Regions from separate parts of the Homo sapiens genome. Here region 2 is linked to region 1. The links come from fine-mapping of genetic effects on gene expression. Tissue or cell type: neural progenitor cells. Region 1 holds a variant in brackets; the other region holds the start of a gene. All regions are shown on one strand. Distances are from middle to middle.

The links. PIP is the estimated chance that this variant, and not a neighbour inherited with it, causes the effect.
Region 2: it holds the start of TMTC1, and the variant in region 1 is fine-mapped to the expression of TMTC1 in neural progenitor cells (Aygun 2021, PIP 0.95).

What each region holds. Positions count from the first base shown.
Region 1 is chr12:29,966,243-29,976,450 of GRCh38, forward strand. The region is part of intron 3 of LOC105369715 (a long non-coding RNA gene); the gene reads right to left. Among named protein-coding and RNA genes, the nearest start is that of TMTC1, 190 kb to the left of the region's middle. The variant GA/G (reference allele first, on the strand shown) is at 5,407.
Region 2 is chr12:29,778,972-29,789,179 of GRCh38, forward strand. TMTC1 (transmembrane O-mannosyltransferase targeting cadherins 1) reads right to left here and starts at 4,971. Exons shown (of 18, transcript NM_001193451.2): 1 at 4,479-4,971. The coding sequence starts at 4,780.

The DNA.
Region 1 (10,208 bases):
CTTTCTGGGACCTCAGTGCACAATTTCCTTACTTATAAAAGAAAAACAGGCACAGTCCTGTACCTTGTGGGGGTGTCCAAATCTAATCTAAACTGCTTACATCCAGGAGCTAACTTTAATTCTTAGAATAAACATGAGGGTTCAGTTATTTTTTTAAAAAAAAGGACAATAATTTTACAGGACACAATTTAAAAAGTAAGCAGCATTCTGTTGTGAGGTACAGGAATAAAAAAAGCCAAAAGAGAATCAAGTCAAAAATCAATTTAAGATATAGTCATTGCTTTCAGACTGTGATCTACTGCTACTTAGAAGGAAATATATCTTTAAAAAAGGTGGAAAGAAAGCTCAGCATTATTTAAATGTTGTTTAGCCCTGCCTGTTTTCTGGGTCACCTCTCGCTGCCATTCAGAGGTGGTGGCTTGGGGAAATATAAATGAAATTCAATACCTCCTTCAGGAAGACACAGTTTGAAGGATGCTTTCTTCCAAAGAGGAAAACACAAATCATTCAATTTAAATACAATTTTTGGATGGGAAAGCTACTTGGGCAGCATGGATCATGGAATGTGAACAGGACGAGGAGTCCAAGGGCAGTGATTCCATCCTGGTCTGCCACAATCTGCACCAAGGTCACATGAGATCTCTAAGTCTTGGTTTCTGAAACTGTAAAATGGGGAGAAGGATGATAATAATTGCTATGACTGAAGTTACCCTAACTCTTAAATAAGGTAAAAGACATGAAATAACTCTGGAAAGCAGAAAGTATTACATCCATCTTAACTATTATAACCATTCTAATCAACTGGATTAAATTCTACACTGAAATGTACCCATTCTACTTAAAAAGCAAAACCAAACCAAACAAACAACAAAACCAACCAGACTGTAAACCAGGTGACCATCCAGGTCCTGTCACCAATTAGTTGTGTGAGTTTATACCAGTCGTTTATTCTCTCAGGGCCTCGGTTTCTCTTACAGGATCATTCTCACAGACTGGCAAGATCCTCATGACATACAGACCAATCCACACTTTGAAAACAACAAAGTGCTATGTAGCAGGGATAGTCATCAAATTGACTTTACCAAAATAGAATTAGAAAAAAAAAAATTCCTATGTTTTGTTTGAACTGCTTTTTATTGTCAAAAGGAGACATTTTCACCATCCAAAATATGATATTTTTCTAAGTTGGACTCACGTGTATTAATACAAGAAAACAGTTACTGGCAATTTGTGTTAATTGAAAAAGAAAGAGCATAGTATCGATCTCTTGCTTAGGTCTTGGCAAAATGAAATTTAAAAGAATCTCTGCCATCCTTCTCCTGTACAGCCACACTCAGCACAGTGTTATATCATCACTGCAGGGGCTCTTTCCTAAGAATGAGATGGCACTTTGTAGCCAGGCCATTAAACCTGGCTTTTTTTGAAAAGAATTAGCCAAGAAAAAAAATGCACATTTACATGGTACTTGAAATCAATTTTTTCATTATATTATGTGATCCGGGGACCCAAATAGGCATGAGAAGAAAATTTTCCAGCCTTCTTGTTACTTGGGCTTTAAGTAAAACATATTGAGAAATAGCTATAACTTTAAAAAATAAGCCCTAAGAACTACAGATGAAGAAATAAATGGCCATAAAACCTAAAAGCAGTAGAGTAAAATAATAAACACCATATAATCTTACAATCTAAATAAATGCTAAAATTGCTGCACTCATGTTTTTCATCTGCTGATTTCCTTTTATTCTATGAAGGAGGTTTCTGGTGCTGAAATGGCATTTCTGTCTCAGTATGCATTTCTTCATCCATCCTCAGTGTTCATCCTTCTCAATTTCTATCAAATAGTACCGAGTTTTCAACTTCAGTTTTTTAAAAAAATTACTGATTTGTATTGCTTAAATCTTCTTTAATAGTATAGTAATGGGATTTTTCAGTGTGTGTTGCATCCCCTTCATTTTGTATTGCATCAGGAGAGCTGAGGCCATTTTTGAACTTAAAACTTACTTCACATCCATGATAAATGTTATTGTCATGCACGATAGTAAAATTATTTCATAATTAGCCAACAGCAATGTTTCCACTTAACAGGATTAAAGAAAAACGTGAACACGCACACACACACAGACACACACACAAACACATTAGTAAAAAGCACATGCCTCTCTGTGAATATGATCCCAAGATTCAGGGAGTAATCCAGCAGGTGGAGAAGATGCATTTATACTGCCATAACCAAGGCAATTTTGTCAATTCCATTATGGAGAGGCTGGAAGAGCACAAACAACCCATTAAGCTTACGCGGGATCTGGTGAGAGCCCTTGACAAAACATTAATGAAAGACAAAATTGAAGGTAAACACAATAATTAACGCCAATGCATACTGAGCTAGGCAACCATGACCTTATAGGAATGGACTGGGATAAGATTATATCTGCTTAGAATAATGACAATTTTTAGAATAATTATTCATTCTGATGGGATAAAAGCATTTATAGGCTAAAAATAAAAACCAATTTTATTGCCTTACCAATATTAGTTTATTAAATTTCAAATTTTAAAAGAGAACCCTTTAAAGTTTTTTATTTTTGTTTCTGAAGCTTTAAACTCAAAATACATTTTAGAGAACACTTTATTGTTACTTTTAGTTTTCTACTGTGTAGATAAAGCAGGATATTACAGTTAGCATGGTATGTGATAACTGAATTTCTAATGAGTTATTTCAATTCAGTTAAAAACAATCATCGATGTATCTATTAAATACAATTGATAATTAAATCATCAATTATCTGTTAAATAACTCATCTATTGAATGGATTATTTGAATGCAGTTAAGAGCAATCACCAATTATCTATTAAATACCAGGGATCCCTGGGCAAGTACTGGAGGATATGCAAAAATGAAGAAGCATATTTCTTTTCCCCTAGAAGTCTGTAAATACAGAAATAATTTCATTATTTGTGTGAATTCTCAGTTTCTCATGAGGCATATATAAATATATAAATAATCCATTACTTTTTTTATTCCCACCATTTTGTTAATGTTTCTGTCTTTTTGTAGTAGTTGTTTTCATTCTGACTAGGTTACAAGTTAAATATCATTACTGTTACTATTATCACTAACAACATCACCCACACACCTAAGGTTTATATTGATAAATATATAAGATTCAAGACTCCAATCTAACCCATTCTGCAATGACGTAACTGCATTATCAACTCATAAACATGGCAGTAAGCAAAAACCAAAACTCTATCCCTAAAGGCAAAGTTATCACTTATGATCTCAGCTCACTTGTTTGTTACTCATAACATAAGCTGAGTATGATAACTGAATTATAATCCTGAACGATTCTCCCAAATTATATCCCTTGGAACACTTGTTTTGAGAAATACTTTTCCCCCAAAAGCATTCCTTGGGCAATGCTGTATTCATCTTTTCTTCTTAAAAAGTTTCACATGGCTACTACAATAAAGAAATCTATTTATCTTTGTTTAACCCGCCATTTTCTAAATTTCTCTGACCAATGGACTTTGCATTTCCACCTCACTCACTTAAGAACAGCCATGGACAACCCTCAGAAGTAGTATTTTCAGGAAGCCATGTTAAGAAATGTTGACTGAGAAGAGAAAGAATTAATTCAGATGGATATTACAGTCCCCAAAGCTTGAAAACTCTAATTATTCTGCCTGAAGAAGAGACTGTGACACCATAATTAAAACTGTTGAAATTACAGCGCCCTTGACATTCCATTTCCTTAAAGATACTTCCAAGATGTAAAATGTACCTAGCTGAAGGACACTGACAATATCTCTTTCTCTGTTGTGCCCATTGTTCAGGACACTTGTATGGTGGGAACAAAAAAAAAAGTGAAAATGTTAAGCCATTTGATTGTACATCAAGCTTTAAGGTAGGCACATTTGCTTTTTCTTTTGTCTCTCCATATTCCACTATCAAAATCAAACAATGGTGAGTTTCATCTCAACAAGAAAATTGTTGACATAAAGTATTAAAATAAGTAACCATCCAATCATGTATGATTTGGAACTACTAGGCAAAAGCTACCAGCATTAAATACATTTCAAGTTCTTGCATTAGAATATCCTTCTTGCCTCAGGGGCTGAGTTCTGGGCCTGGTGGGGCTGCTGACCACTACTCATGTAGTGCTATTTGTACAAGATGGCAGAAGTTCCTTGGGTAAAGAAACTACATTACTCAGAGAGAAAAATGTACACAATGTCTGCCAAAACGATTCTTAACTTTTGATTTTCTTTTCTGTTTTATTTCACTTCTCCTTTCTGCCACTGGACTCTGCCTGGAATGATATATTTTTAGAGCACTGAAATCCTACTAAAACACTTTTAAAAACACTTAAGCGATGCACAATTATGTGGGTAAAAAAAAAATCCAATAGGTCAACATTCCCATTGTTTAGAAGCAGCTGCAAAGGAGGACTGGCTGTACGTCCACCGGTACACCATGTTTGCAGGAGTTGAGGAAGCAAAGGAATTTGCTTACTTCCTTAACTCAAAACTAAAAAGAAGCCAAATCAGCACCATTATATGACTTAGCTGTTTTTGCTGCATTTAGAGTAGATGTAGCTGGCATTTAGTAAGTTCCTCCCATCTCTGTCACCCACCATACTAGAAATAAGCTTATGAGGCTAGCTTTTAACGCAGAAATCTAAGATAATGCCTAAGTCATAAAAACAAGATCAGTCCTTGTCAAGTTCCTAGACAATTAAATGCCATACTTCCCCTGACACACACTTCTGCCCCATCTAAGATGAATTTAATTTGGGGGCAGAAGGAGTTTCTATTAAAAAGCCAAAGAAGACAAGCTGCATGAGCTTAAAAGGACTACACAAGAGCTTAGGAAGCTGTTTTGGGAGACATAGGAGAGGCAGCCAGACAAAGAAAACACATTGAGCCTTAGAAAGGCTCACTGCTTCTCTCTGGACATCTTTAATTGGCAAAGAAAGCTCAAGGGCCTTTTTATCCCTCCAACCACACTGTAGGAAGTAACTAAGGGATAGCAAATTTCAGGTGCCATCTCTGAGAGGCAGCTAGTGGATATCATAGCTATGGCTACAGCACAAAATACTCTTGTGCTAACCCACTCTGGCCTTGCCCTAGAAACTCTCCTGGACAGTTTGTGTTTAAGAATTCCTTTAGTGCTTCTTGGCCATAGTTATGACTATAGTGCAGCCAGGACTGTAATTCAAAGTTTGATTGATTGATTCATTGATTGATTGATTGATGTATGCTAAATTCAGCTGTCTGGCCACTGACAGATTCAAGGAGTATCCAGGAAACGCGGTGAGTTAATCCCTATGCTGGTTGTTTCCTTCAGATGCACAGTAATAGAAAGCATCCCTGGGACTCTTTCCTCTTTCATCATAGAAGAGCACA[GA/G]AGGCCTTTCATATATCCTGAGCTCAAAGACTGACTGCAGCTGCAGAATCATGAGGCTTACAAGGAGAGGACTCCAGCATGGCCATAGTTAAAGCAGGAACTTTGCTTTAACAATTAGCCCTGACCTATTAAAAGTGGGACTGCTAGTATTTATAGCAACTTCCTGATTCTATTACCATGCACAGCCCTCCATCTGAATAATGTGCAGATATTTTTTATTCCTGGTAATGGTAAGGGTCTGGAAGCAATAGCCTCTCTCACTAGGTATCTGATTAGGTGAAAATTCCTTTGGGTTTTATGTGATCATCGTGGTGGCATTGCATTAGTTATGAAACAAAGCCTAACTTCATTTGAAGAATTCTTCAATAATCAGGTTAAAAAATTACTTTTAATTTTGATTTTCTATAAAATATATATATTTTTAAAACAGCCACCTTTTAAATGTACTGTAGACCCATGCAGACACAAAACACACTTTGTGTATTTATCCTTTAACTAAGCCTTTGAATTAGATCGGGGCTTGAGGTCTTCAGAAGTGTCAAGGGGGTATTTTCTATAAAAACGATGAATAATTCAAGAGATGTCTGTCAGAATAAATTTAAGTTCATCTTGATTTTGACTGCCACAGGTATGTCACACAAAATCCTGCTGGTAATTATCCCCTATCCCATCTTTAGGAAAAAAAACAAAGTGTTTCATCTATATAACTCAACGAATGCTTCACTGAACTGAAACAGAATAGTGATTTTTAAGCTCTCTTTTGAAGACCATTGTGAACAGCCACTGTGTAGTTTACTTTTCACCGTCCTAATCAACATTTTTATTGTTTATTGTGACTCTCTTACTATTGCTTTTCCATTTTTTTCCTGCGAATTAAGATTTTAAAATTAATTATAAGATACTGTGTTTGATGTTTTAAGGAGTCTTGCAGTGGAACAAAGTTTATTTTCATTTAAAAGCCACAATAAATATAGAAACATAATTGAGTGGCTGAAGGAAAAGGAATAAGTTAGGAGTCATAGAAATAATCTCTAATCCACTGAGAATTTTAATCTTTTAAATTAAAGCATTAGAAAACTTAAAGCCTTAATATACACAACTCCGGTAATTTAAGGTGCTCTTTATTTGTACCTAGTACCATTTCCTTAATCACAACTAGTAAAATTAGCAGGCAAGGGCACTGTTATGCCCTTCTATCCTAGCCACAGTCTCTGTGACGTATGAATAGGACATAATTCTTGGGAGGGAGGAGGTGCCTAAGGGAAAAACGAAAGGAAGGAAACACAACAACAAAATAAGTCCAAATAAACTATGACAATAGGGCTGATACTTTATATTTGCATTATATTTTACAGTTTATGAAGTGTTTTTCCATTCATTCAATTATTTAGTCTTCACTATTCTTTAAAATTATTATTGTCCCTACCTTACAGGTGAGGAAACCATAGCTGGAAGAAATTAAGTAAACTATATATCATTTAAAAATACATAAATTATTATTTTACTCATATTACTAAGAACTAGTGTTCTTTAAAGAAAGTATAAGGAGGATAGTGTCTCTAGTAAATCTATGAGTTTTTCAAAAAGATGATTCAGTTAAACTTTCAGGGATAATAGCCCACTAAGGGGATGATAAATACATAGCTACTAATTAAATCTTCCACTGGGATAATTACTTAACTTCATTTCATTGGCCAATGTATTCAGCTTTTAGGGGCCAGTTCTCAGAGACAGAAGTGAAATCAACTCACATTTCAAGAAACTGGGCTACTGAAATCTCATTTCTGACATAGTATGAATTTCTGTCCCTGCCCAAATCTCATGTCCAATTGTCATCCCCAGTGTTGGAAGAGGGGCCTGGTGGGAGGTGACTTAATTATGAGAACAGACTTCCTCCTTCCTATTCTCATGATAATGAGTGAGTTCTCAGGAGATCTGGTTGTTGTAAAAGCCTGTGGCACCCCCAATCCCCTCGGCCTCTTCCTCCTGCTCTAGCCATGTAGGACATGCCGGCTTCCCCTTCGCCTTCTGCCACGATTGAAAATTTCCTGACGTCTCCCCAGCTATGCTTCCTATACAGTACAGCTTACGGAATTATGAGCCAGTTAAACCTCTTTTCATTATAAATGACCCAGTCTCAGGTAGTTCTTTACAGCAGTGTGAGAATGGACTAATACAATTTCTTCAGTAGGAGATTTGTTTCCTATTATACAACATGAATATTACATCCCTGAAAAATATGGCATTATGGAAAGCCAGTTCAGAATAGATGACATTAAGAAAGTGTATAAAACTTGGCTTTCTACATCTTATAGAAAATTGTAAATAAAAATACATATTCATTCAGCTCTATTATTCTTAATGTCAACCAAAAGTCCACAGGCTGAGGTCAGAAAACAATACAGTGGGACTATAATCCAGACAATAAACAAAGATTACTTATTGATGAAACCTATATAATTAAAGTTTAATTATATATTTGATTTCAGTCATTTTCTTTAGATTTTCAAATAATCTTTTCAAAACCCAAAGAGTTTGGTCATTTTTTATTATTTCAGCAACTTTCTTACTCCTGTTTGCAATTTCCTTTCTGAGTGTACACACCATGATTTGTCTGATTGCCATTCTTACACATTAATTTATTCAAAGTTAACTATGCTTAAAATAAGATATTTATTTACTATTTCATATTGAAAAAAATCAAAGGGAAAATATGACTAGTCTGTGATCTTAAACTGAACCTTGTTCCCGCCATAACATTTGAATTATCAAGTCAATAAATCTCCCTTTGATAAAAGTAGGTAATCTTAATGGCCTGCCTCTTAATCATTATTAATAATTCAGATAGTCACTTTCTGCTATAATTGTACTCCTTCTTGGTCCATAATAGACAGATCCAAGAAAATTCTTAGGTGATTTAGGAAAGTGTGACACATTCTCAAATGAGAGGTCGGTCCACTAAATAACCTGACCTCACACAATGAGTTAATACAGATGACTTCTAGGAATGACCTAGAAGGACTCTGTCCTGTTTATTTTCCAAGACAACTTACACTTAGACCATTGCTGTCTGTTTCCCTCCAGGGAATGAATTTTGATAAATAACTGAATTGGCCTGATAGCTGAGGGGTTAACTAAGTACCAGTGGGTAGGAGAATTATTGAATGAAATTCTATTTTTAAATTGTACTTCTCTGCTCTTTTAAATGAAAAATAGTGACCAGTTTCAGCTTTCTAAATATGGCTAGCCAGTTTTCCCAGCACCATTTATTAAATAGGGAATCCTTTCCCCATTTTTGTTTTTGTCAGGTTTGTCAAAGATCAGATGGTTGTAGATGTGAGGTATTATTTCTGAGGGCTCTGTTCTATTCCATTGGTCTATATCTCTGCTTTGGTACCAGTACCATGCTGTTCTGATTACTGTAGCATTGTAGTACAGTTTGAAGTCAGGTAGTGTGATGCCTCCAGCTTTGTTCTTTTGGCTTAGGATTGACTTGGCGATGCGGGCTCTTTTTCAGTTCCATAGGAACTTTAAAGTAGTTTTTTCCAATTCTGTGAAGAAAGTCATTGGTAGCTTGATGGGGATGGCATTGAATCTATAAATTACCTTGGGCAGTATGGCCATTTTCATGATATTGATTCTTCGTACCCATGAGCATGGAATGTTCTTCCATTTGTTTGTATCCTCTTTTATTTCATTGAGCAGTGGTTTGTAGTTCTCCTTGAAGAGGTCCTTCACATCCCTTGTAAGTTGGATTCCTAGGTATTTTATTCTCTTTGAAGCAATTGTGAATGGGAGTTCACACACCCCACTGTCAAGGTTAGACAGATCAATGAGACAGAAAGTTAACAAGGATACCTAGGAATTGAACTCAGCTCTGCACCAAGCGGACCTAATAGACATCTACAGAACTCTCCACCCCAACTCAACAGAATGTACATTTTTTTCAGCACCACACCACACCTATTCCAAAATTGACCACATAGTTGGAAGTAAAGCTCTCCTCAGCAAATGTAAAAGAACAGAAATTATAACAAACTGTCTCTCAGACCACAGTGCAATCAAACTAGAACTCAGGATTAAGAAACTCACTCAAAACTGCTCAACTACATGGAAACTGAACAACCTGCTCCTGAATGACTACTGAGTACATAACGAAATGGAGGCAGAAATAAAGAGGTTCTTTGAAACCAATGAGAACAAAGACACAACATACCAGAATCTCTGGGACACATTCAAAGCAGTGTGTAGAGGGAAATTTATAGCACTAAATGCCCACAAGAGAAAGCAGGAAAGATCCAAAATTGACACCCTAACATCACAATTAAAAGAACTAGAAAAGCAAGAGCAAACACATTCAAAAGCTAGCAGAAGGCAAGAAATAACTAAAATCAGAGCAGAACTGAAGGAAATAGAGACACAAAAAACCCTTCAAAAAATTAATGAATCCAGGAGCTGGTTTTTTGAAAGGATCAACAAAATTGATAGACTACTAGCAAGACTAATAAAGAAAAAAAGAGAAGAATCAAATAGATGCAATAAAAAATGATAAAGGGGATATCACCACCGATCCCACGAAATACAAACTACCATCAGAGAATACTACAAACACCTCTACGCAAATAAACTAGAAAATCTAGAAGAAATGGATAAATTCCTCGACACATACACCCTCCCAAGACTAAACCACGAAGAATTTGAATCTTTGAATAGACCAATAACAGGCTCTGAAATTGTGGCAATAATCAATAGCTTACCAACCAAAAAGAGTCCAGGAACAGATGGATTCACAGCCAAATTC
Region 2 (10,208 bases), 190 kb before region 1:
AAGGATGAGCTAAAATACATGTCTGTTTTCCACTGCCTTTAAGGCTCCAACTTTAACAATGCAAGAGGCTTGCAAAAAGACTGGCACTCTTCCCTGCAGAGCTGCATACACACCTGCACCATGATTCCAAGTAGCTGAAAGACGAGATCTGGAGAGCACTGGAGGAGCTGAGGGCCTGGGTGCTGCTGCAAACCAACAGCATGTTCACCAACATTTCTGTGACAAACTGCAAGAGGCCTGGCAGCAACAAAACCTATGCCAACATTCTGAATGTGATCTTAGCCACTTCACTTTCACCTTCCAAATCTTGCAGAAATTTTTCTTATGGTCAGCCCTAACCCAGATCATCTTGCAAAGGCAATTCCAAGAAACATAGTCCCAACTTAGCTAAAGTGACATAGTGCAAAGCCACCACATCTTGGTAAGCTGCTTTCATATTCCACTGTCCCATCCCCTCAAAACTGGTAGAAGTAGATGGTCTGCAACCCATTTCCTCATTTCAAATTTTAGTTCATTTCTTACTTGAAAAAATACATAATTAGTATCTTTACTACCTAAGCAAGCACTTTTATTATTTATTAGTATACAAGCAACCACCTTTATAGCAAAAAGTATTATGCATCTATAAATTACATTTATTCTTAAGGAAATTTCTAGCTCTCAGTATGCGTAAGATACATTCAATGAATCAAAAATCAACTTACATTTTAATAAAAAATATGTTTGGAGTATTGCACTGAGAAAGGTCCTGTGAGGAGGACAAAAAGACAAGCTACAGAGTGGGAGAAAATATTTACCAATCACATACTTGACAAAGTACATGTATCTAGAATATATAAAGAACTTCAATACTCAACATTTAAAAAAAACACTTAAAAATGGACAAAAGACACAAAGGCACATTTACCAAACTCTTTGGTTTAATATCAGATGTTCAATAGCTTCACCCATTAGGGAATGGTAAATTAATGAGGTACATATATAGGTGTGATATCACTACATACCTATCAAAATGGCTACAGTAAAAAACAGCAACAATACAAAGTGCTGGCAGAAATGCACAGAAACTGGATTACTCAGACACTGCGGCTAGGAACATCTGGAAAACAGTATGGCAGCTTCATATAAAGCATATGAACATGCAGCCACCATATGGCCCAGCAATTGGACTCCTGGGCATTTAGAACAGAGAAATAAAAATCTATGTTTACATAAAAACCTGTAAGTGAATTTTTATAGCAGCTTTATCCCAGCCAAAAGTTGGAAACAACCTAGATGTCCCCAACAGGTGAATGGTTATACAAACTGTGGTATATCCATACAATGGAATACAACTCAGCAATAAAAAGGAACAAACTATGGATACATGCAACAGCCTGAATGAAGATCCAGAGACATGCTGAGTGCAAGAAGCCAATCTCAACAGGTTACATACTATGTGATTCCATTTATACAACAGTATTAAAATGGCAAAATGATAATGGAGAACAGATTCATGGTTGTTATGGATTTGGGTGAGGGGATTATGGATTAGGCAGTTGTTATAGATTAGGTGTCCATGATTGCAATAAAGAAGTACTGAGGATCCTTGGGATGGAATTGTTCCGTATCTTGACTGTGGAGGTACTCTCTGAAATCTACACATATGATAAAGCTGCATAAAACTAAATACACACTTAGTAAAATAAAAAAAATAGAAGTACATATAAAATGGGTGAAATCTGACTAAATGCTGTAGATTGCATCAATATCAATTTCCTGGTTGTAATATTATACCATAATAATACAGGATGTTACCATTGGGGGAAATGGATAGAGTAGAAGGAATCTCTCTATTATTACTTAAAACTGCATGGGAATGCACAATTACATTAAAAAAGTTTTTAAAACGGGTTTGAAATCTCAAAGTTTTTGCTCAAACAAGCATAATTTAAGATACAGTTAAAATGGTTTGCACATATTTAAAGGGCCCCTTCAATTGTGTTTTCACTATCTAAAATAAAAATCATAAAGACGTAATCTATGTGAAGTATCTAGGCCAATGCTTGGTTCATAGCGAATAGTTAATAAATACGGCTTTCTGTCCTTCCTTGTACCATCCTGTAGAGTTGTATGGTTCTAAAATCACTGATATCCTCCAGCTTCATGCTATACCTCAGGTGAATATAAAGAAAACTGTCCAGTCTTATTTAAATCAATGCATGTGAGGACAGAAAGACTACTTAACATTCTCTTTCTGAAGAGGCAGTTATCTCTTTCCAATTAGTGCTGTGTTTCTCTTCTAGATTTGCAACTCAATCTTCTCAAAAAAAGAGTGTATCTTTCATAGGCAGTAGCATATAATATACAGCAAGCCATGCCTCTTAGACACCAAGCTGCTTGTTACAATCAATGATTACCACAAGAGTCCCTCAGCTCTCTTCCTCCTGAATCCCCCAACTCTCCTTTGCCCTTGTTCTGTCAACTCCTAGCCAATTTTCCTCTTAATCAATGGTCTTACTTCTTTGTCTACTCCCTCCACCCCTCCCTTATGTGCCTGCTGTCTCCATTATGAAGAAAAATAAAACATTTTAGGTGAGGTACAGTAGCTCATGCCCACAAGTCCAGCACACTGGGAGGCTGAGGCTTAAAGATCGCTTAGCCCAGGAGTTCAACACCAGCCTAGACAACATAGGAAGACCCCATATCTACAAAAAAAATTTTAAAATATATCTGGATGCACGGCATGTGCCAGTAGTAGTTCCAGCTACTTGGGAGGCTGAGGCAGGAGAATTGCTTATGCCCAGAAGTTTCAGGCTACAGTGAGCAATAATCATGCCACTGCACTCCAGGCTGGAGGACAGAGTGAGATCCCATCCCAAAAAAGAAAAAAAGAGAAAAGACAGAGAAAAAAGAAGAAAACCTTCTAGAAAGTCAAGAAGTGAAAACACCCTTCCCTACTCTCCAGCAAGTAGGCACAGGCATTTGACTCTGCCCTTTTTAATTGAAAAATACTCAGACCTGTGACCAGGATGGTCTCCATGGCTGTTACAAAGATAGCAAGCACATCTCATGCTGTGAACTTGCACATCCTAAATTAACCAACAACCCTGACTGTAATAATGAAAAAGCAGGTCAATCTAGAAGTGAAACATTTATATTTGTCCCAAGGAGATTTTAAGAAACATCTGGGAAACTGAATAGCGAGGTTAGCCAAGGTTATCTTTCAGTAGAAAACGAGAACAACTTTCTAAGAGAACAAATGTCTATAACACATTCTCTTCAAAGTCAAATATGTAATTTTCTCACTCTCCTTAAAAACATTAAACTTTCAGTGGAAGACGTAAGTCAAAAGCCCATGAATTGTTGCCGATTGCTATGGTTTCCTTTTCTGAGTCATCAGAGACACCTGTCAAGAGGCCTCAGCCTCTCATCCAGAGCAGGCTTTTCAAGCTGCCAACCCAGTCTCAAATAATCATTACCATAAACACGGGTTCCTATTACACCCGTTGCAAAAAGGCTTAAAACGCCGATAATAGCGCACCAATATTATTTCAACAGTTTTGACCGGCGCGTTAAAATGAACTTCAATGCTGAGCCACATTATAAAGGGTTGAGTCAAGCTCCTGATTGTGTAAGATAGCATTTCCCTTAAATGAGCACTTCTCTTCTTTCCTCAGAAGCTAGGCTTCTTTTCAAATTAAAGAAAATACTCCACCCCTCAAAAACCTGGCATATTCTCGGTTCCCTTTACGCTTATTCACACCAGAAACGCTGAATCATGACTCCGAGGTTGTAAAAGAAAAACTATTTCGGCTGGGGCCCCAGGGTCCCTGGAGAAGCCTAGGCTCTGCGTTACCTCTCTCTGCACCTTCTAAAGTCTAGATCCAGAGAAGTCTGGCAGATTGGAGAGCCTCTGGGAGCAGCCAAGGGTGCAAGGCGGGGGCTGGGGGGCTCGGGAGAGTTTTCTGCTCCCTCTCCTGAACCCACGCAGCCCTGTCAGCTCAAGGCTCCCGCCTCGTCTCATCTGAACGAAACCCTTAAGGGGCTGATACACTTCTCATCTGCAAAGCTGCCCAACAGCCTCCGAGAAATTCTCTACTTGGAAGCATCGCCACCACCGCCACCCCTCCGGAACCCTCTGGGTCCGCGCTAGTCCCACTTGGTCACGATCCGGCAGGCGAAGGGGTGCGGAGGCGGTTTCACCAGCCCGCTCCCAGCCCTGCCTCGAGAGAGAAGCCCGCTGAGAGGGCAGACAGTTGAGAAACTCGATCCCAACTCCCCAGCCGGCGCCTCCCGAACCGCCCCGAGAGCCCAGATTAGCCGGGCAGTGGATCCCGGAGCAAAGTGCCATGCACATCCTGGAGAGGAGGGAGGCGTGGAGGGAAAGGGCGGCAAAAATGAAATGCCCCCAAGTCAGTCCCGCAACTTCTCCCGGTCCGAGGGACGGGCGGAGGGTAGAGGAGGCAGCGGCGGCTAGCGCGAGGTGAGGGACTCACTTGAAGGTGAGGACGCAGAGCGGCCGGTAGGACTTGTGGCTGGTGTTCTCGGCCATGCCCTTGCCCCAGAAGTCGTTGGTGAAGATGCCCCAGCGGAGCGGGGCGCCGGGCCGCACGTCGGGGTTGTTCACGATCGCCCACACGTCGTCGTGCACGAACTCGCCCTGCAGGGAGCGGCCGTAGCACAGGCAGCTTGCCCCGGCCAGCAGCGCCGCGGCCCCGGCCGGCGCTAGCCCGCAGCCCCGCCGCCGGGAGGGTGTGCGGTCCCCGCCGCCGCCTCGGGCAGAGGTGGTCACCACCATCGCGCCGCCGCCGCCGCTGCTGCCCTGGCCTCTCCCGGGCGTCTGGCATCCTCCCCTACCGGGGCCCCGGCGGCGCGCGGCGTCTGCCCGGAGGGGGGCTCGGGCATGGTGCTGCGGCAGCTGGACCCGCCGCGAGCTCCCCGCGCTCCGCCGCCGCCTGCGCCGCGGAGTTGGCCCAGCTGCAAATAAACAGCAGTCCCCCCGCCTCCCCCGGCCATCGCCACCTCCTCCGCCCCACTGCGCATGCCCGCTCGCTCTCTCTTCCACCGCCCCCCAATCCCGGGACGCGGGCCGGTTCCCCCGCACAGCCCGGCGCCCTCTGCCCCCGGCCCGCCTTGCTTGCAGGTGGACCGGGGTTCGCGGCGCGCGGCTGCCCGGGAGCTGCGGGGAAGGACACCCCAGGTTCCCACTTGCGGTGTCCGGCTGTGCTCACCCCCACGCCCCCGCCCCCATCCTTCTCCCCCGAATGGGGCTGGGAAGGGGCACATCTGGCGGACCCCTCCCGGGGGACCCAGGAGGGTTTAGCAGGTGCGCAGTCTGGAACCCCCACACCCACCTTCCAGGGAGAAAAGTGCCGCTGCTTCCCGGGAAGTTCCCGGCTTTTCAGCACCCGGGACAACAGCAGCGGCGCCCGGAGAGACGCTCTCCACCCGCCCCGCGCTCGCGTCCAGTCGCCGGCTCTGTGCTCTCCTGCCCGGGCTTTCTCTCACCCGCCCGGCGCGGCGTCCCGCTTGGCGGAGGAACCCGCGGGGATAGGGAGCACCTTCCTCAAAGCCAGGAGAAGGGGTCTCCCTGGACAAGGACATCCTGCTCGCCCTGCCCGGGTGTGTTCAGAGGCGCCACCGGCTCTTTAACTTTACAGCCCCTTTCTTGGCCCGCACTTACAAAAAGTACCAGGTTCGAGTTTTGGTTTGGGCCTGGGAGCCGAATTGTCTTCTGAAACATTTCTTATTTTATTGTTTGCTCAAGATAATTTGGGAGATGCCAAGCAAACTACTTTTTCTATCTAGCTGGATCACTTGGGTCTCATTATTTCCTGGGCTGTGGGCGTGTTTGAACAGGGCGGGGAAGAAGGTGGGGATGGGGGGATGGGGAGGTGGGGGCGATTTGTATTAGGGCCTCTGGCTTTGGCTCCTAAACTTCCTGTCTTTCTGAAAGATTGTTTTCTTTTTTAAAATACTAATTTTAATAATATGTCCCAGAGTGATGATTACTAGAATTTCTCCAGGTCTGAAAATTCTATTTGTTCTTTCAGGCACCTTCTAAATTTCCATTGCTGAGTGTTAGAAGTTATCAGGAATTTGACACATCCAGATAGAAAAACTGAAAATAAAAAGTCACCCTTTTATTCTCATCCTCCCCAAACCCTTAAAAAGCTCACCGACATAATCCAGAAATTGTTCCTCTGCTATGAGTATTTGTGTGGCTCTTTACTATAACAACTTACTTTTTAAAAAATTTTAAGACATCTGAGCAGTTGAAAAGTCAATGAATTAAGATAAACTTATTGTAACTCAAAGTACGTTTCACCCATTTTCACTTTGTTTATTTGGTGACTTGAAATTAGTGACTGAGAAATGAAACTGGAAGTCCTGGACATGGATGTTTTCATTCTTCCATCAAAATCTTTCACGCTTGGTAACCTTAATATACCGACTTTAATATCTAGACACACCTGAGTCTATTTCCCCGTATAACACACTACAGCCTTTCCTATTCACCTATTAACTTAATAAAAATATATTAAGGAGATTCTTTGTGCTACAATGTGCTAAGTATAGGATTGGAAGACCCAAAGCTGCTCGTGTGTGTGCGTCTGTATGTGTGTGTGGTTAACACCATAAAAGTCTAGCTTTCTAAGTTAACAGCTGATTGGGATAGTGAAATTATCTTTGCTGAAATCATAGTTGAGGTAATAGGTCAATGTATCAATCCTTACCTATAATTAACGGAGGCTTTCTAGAGAGAACGTCTTAACCCAAAAGAGTGACTCTAGGCCAGGTGCAATGGCTCACACCCGCAATCCCAGCACTTTGGGAGGCCAAGGCAGGAGCGTTGCTTGAGGCCAGGAGTTCAAGACTGGCCTGGGCTACAGAGTGAGACCCTGCCTCAAAAAAGAAAAGAAAAGAGTGGCCTCTAATAGTAGATTTTTATAGAAAGAAAGTCTTTTTTCCTTCCTCAAATTATCCTTAAGTCATCCTTTTCCAAGGAAGAGCTCTGGCTACCCCCTTCTTCTCGGAGTTGTTTTCTTTTTTAGATGGAAACAGTATCAGAGTGCTCCATGACCATGGAGAGTAGTGCAGGACTTGGGACTGAGACTCCAAAGAGATCATAAAAAGAAGAGATAAAGGAAACCTGAAAGTAGGATTCCTGGTTACCTAATCTTTCCTCTAGGTTCAGTGGCATCTTTATTCTATTTTGCTCAGATGACAAATTTGAGATTGACTTAAAATAGTGAAATGCTTCAAGTCTTCTCAAGGACAACTGATCAGTGAATATTTTTAAAAATTAGTTCCTTCGGGCCTGGCATGGTGGCCCACCCCTGTAATCCCAGCACTTTGGGAGGCCTAGGTGGGCAGATCAGGTCAGGAGATCGAGACCATCCTGGTCAACATGGTGAAACCCTGTCTCTACTAAAAATACAAAAATAACCTAGGCGTGGTGGCACGCGCCTGTAGTCCCAGCTACTTGGGAGGCCAAGGCAGGAGAATGGCTTGAACCTGGGAGGTGGAGGTTGCAGTGAGCCAAGATCACGCCACTGCACTCCAGCCTGGGGACCGTGTGAGACTCTATCTCTAAAAATAATAATAATAATAATAATAATAATAATAATAATTAGTTTCTTTGCAGCCTCATCACCTCCTGATTCAATACTGCTCTGTGTGGTAGGAAAAGTATAGAAGTACTGATGTCAGAGAGAGGTTTACATTGATATGCCAGCCCATCAAGCCATTTGCTTCTCTCTTAAAGTGGAAAACATCCATCTTGACTAATAAAGGGGCCCAAAAGGAAGTTAGATTTAATTCTTGTTACTTAGCCTCTAATTATTTTTAAAGGATTGATAATTAGCGCAATACTACCTCCTGAAACGCCTTGTGTCCACTCAAAAGCAATTTATAATAAAACATGAATTATTGTAGAAGTACCTCTCTGAGGCTCATATAGATTAAGTCACTCATGCAAATTAAGATGGACCATATTTCTGAAAGAGATTAGGACACAACTAAAAATAAATCAAGGGCAAGCTATTGTAATAAAACCAATTTCAAATTACTGCTAACAACAATTCTTTGCTTGACCAAACTTTAGTTAGTCTTCTGAAACTTCCTAGCACCATCATTGTACTTCCTTGTAAAATCCAGTTTTAGCAAAGAACACTACTAAGTCAGTTTGGCAAGAGAGTGATCAGATATCAAGGGTAGGGGGTTCTTGCTGTATTTGAAGTTGAGTCCAGTCTGTCTTCCCCACTGAAGGACCGCATTGCAGTGGTCCCTATAACTATCATGATGGTCCTGAATAAATTCTACCATGCTTTAACAAGTATTGTTGAATAATCTTTTTATTTTAACACTGCTCCCTGTGCTTTTTTTCAGCCTAATGATGTCCTTTATTCAAATATAACCTATATAAATGGCCAAATGCAATATTACAAAGGTGATAATATCGTTTACAAAAGAAATGATACTATAGTTTACATTAAAACATAAATTTTTGTTGTCTAGTTGTTTAAATATTACTGCTCTTGAAGAAAATACAGAAAAGTAGAAAGAAGAACAAAAAAATTTAAATTACCCCCCAACCCATGGGCCTGTGGTACAGCAGGCAACATGTGCTCTAAGAAGCTGGCCCAACACCTGACAGGGCAGGTGTCGGACAGCCTGGGGCTGTGCCCAGACCTGGGCCCAGACTGGTGGCAGCAGAAGCAACAGTGGCAGCCCGGCTGCAGCCCCAGGAGGAAAAAGGGGATCTCCCTGGAGGTAAACTGTCTTTCCTTCCATCCCTAAAGTGTCTCTCTGTGGCATCTGCACGGTAATAAAATTTAAGAGTATCAAAAATTATTTGTGACCTTGCATTTTCTGGCACTCAGGCAATAAACTTTGTCAGTATATTACTACAAGATAAAAGTATACATAGGTACATTGCAATACAAAATATTGCAGGAGAGGAACACTGTCTTTTCTTCCTACCTTTGTTGGTTCCTGGCTGGATCTCTGTAACAAAAGACAGATCAAGAGAAATGCATACAAATTCGTTTAGTATAAGTTTTTCGTGACACAGGAGACTTCATAAGGAATTGAAGACCCGAAGAAGTAGTTAAACCTGATTGTTTTCAAAGTATGTTTGCTGAAGAATAAAGAAACATAGAAAAATATGATAGGATAAAAATGGGTATGAACTAAGAGTTGTAAACTGGGGGAACCTTAGCAAGGCCTGTTTGTTCATATTTATCTGGGAATCACTGCAGCTTTGGAAATAAGGACAATCTCCTTGGAAGATAGGAGGGGCACCTCTCACATGAAGGTCTTATGACCTGCTTCATAGGAAGATCAGAAAGTCCTTCCTGCACCTGCCATTTCTTGAATTCCTTTGGCTTAAAATATTCACTAAGTCAAAGGTGTCATATTTTGGGGCAGCATGTCCTGAACCACATCAATATCAAGGATTTACCAGAATTCTTCAAAGAGTGGAATCTCTGGCTTTGAAAACTGCTGCAACATTGCAAACCTAATATCCATAGTCTTAGAAATTATTGTGTATAATAGAAAAGAACACTATTTTCATCTGAATGTAATTTTAATAACATACATGTTATTTTACATTTGAATACATAAATCAAAAAGCTACTTTTAGTGTTTTATACAACCTCTACAACTTATAGGAAATGTCAGAGGAAGCACTAAAATGCCATTGTATAAATTTACATTTTAAATTAAAGTCAGACTTATACCAAAGACATTTGAATGAAGAGTTAATCTTTGTGTGTGTGCGTGTGTGTGTGAGATGAAGTCTCGCTCTGTCGCCCTGGCTGGAGTGCAATGGCGCAATCTCAGCTCACAGCAACCTCCGCCTCCCAGGTTCTAGTGATTCTTCTGCCTCAGCTTCCCAAGTAGCTGGGATTACAGGCGCCCACCACCACGCCCAGCTAATTTTTGATTTTAGTAGAGACGGGGTTTCACCATGTTGGTCTTGAACTCCTGACCTCAGGTGATCCACCCGCCTCGGCCTCCCAAAGTGCTGTGATTACCAGCGTGAGCCACTGCACCCGGCCCGAAGGGTTAAATATTTTAAGAAAATCATTCCATTTGAATCAAGAGCTCTAGATGTACTTTATATTTCAAAATAAAGTATCAGACATTTATTCCAATGTTGTCATAGCCTATAAAATACTCTAACTGCTCTAGTCACAGTTGAATGAGCAGAGAGATGT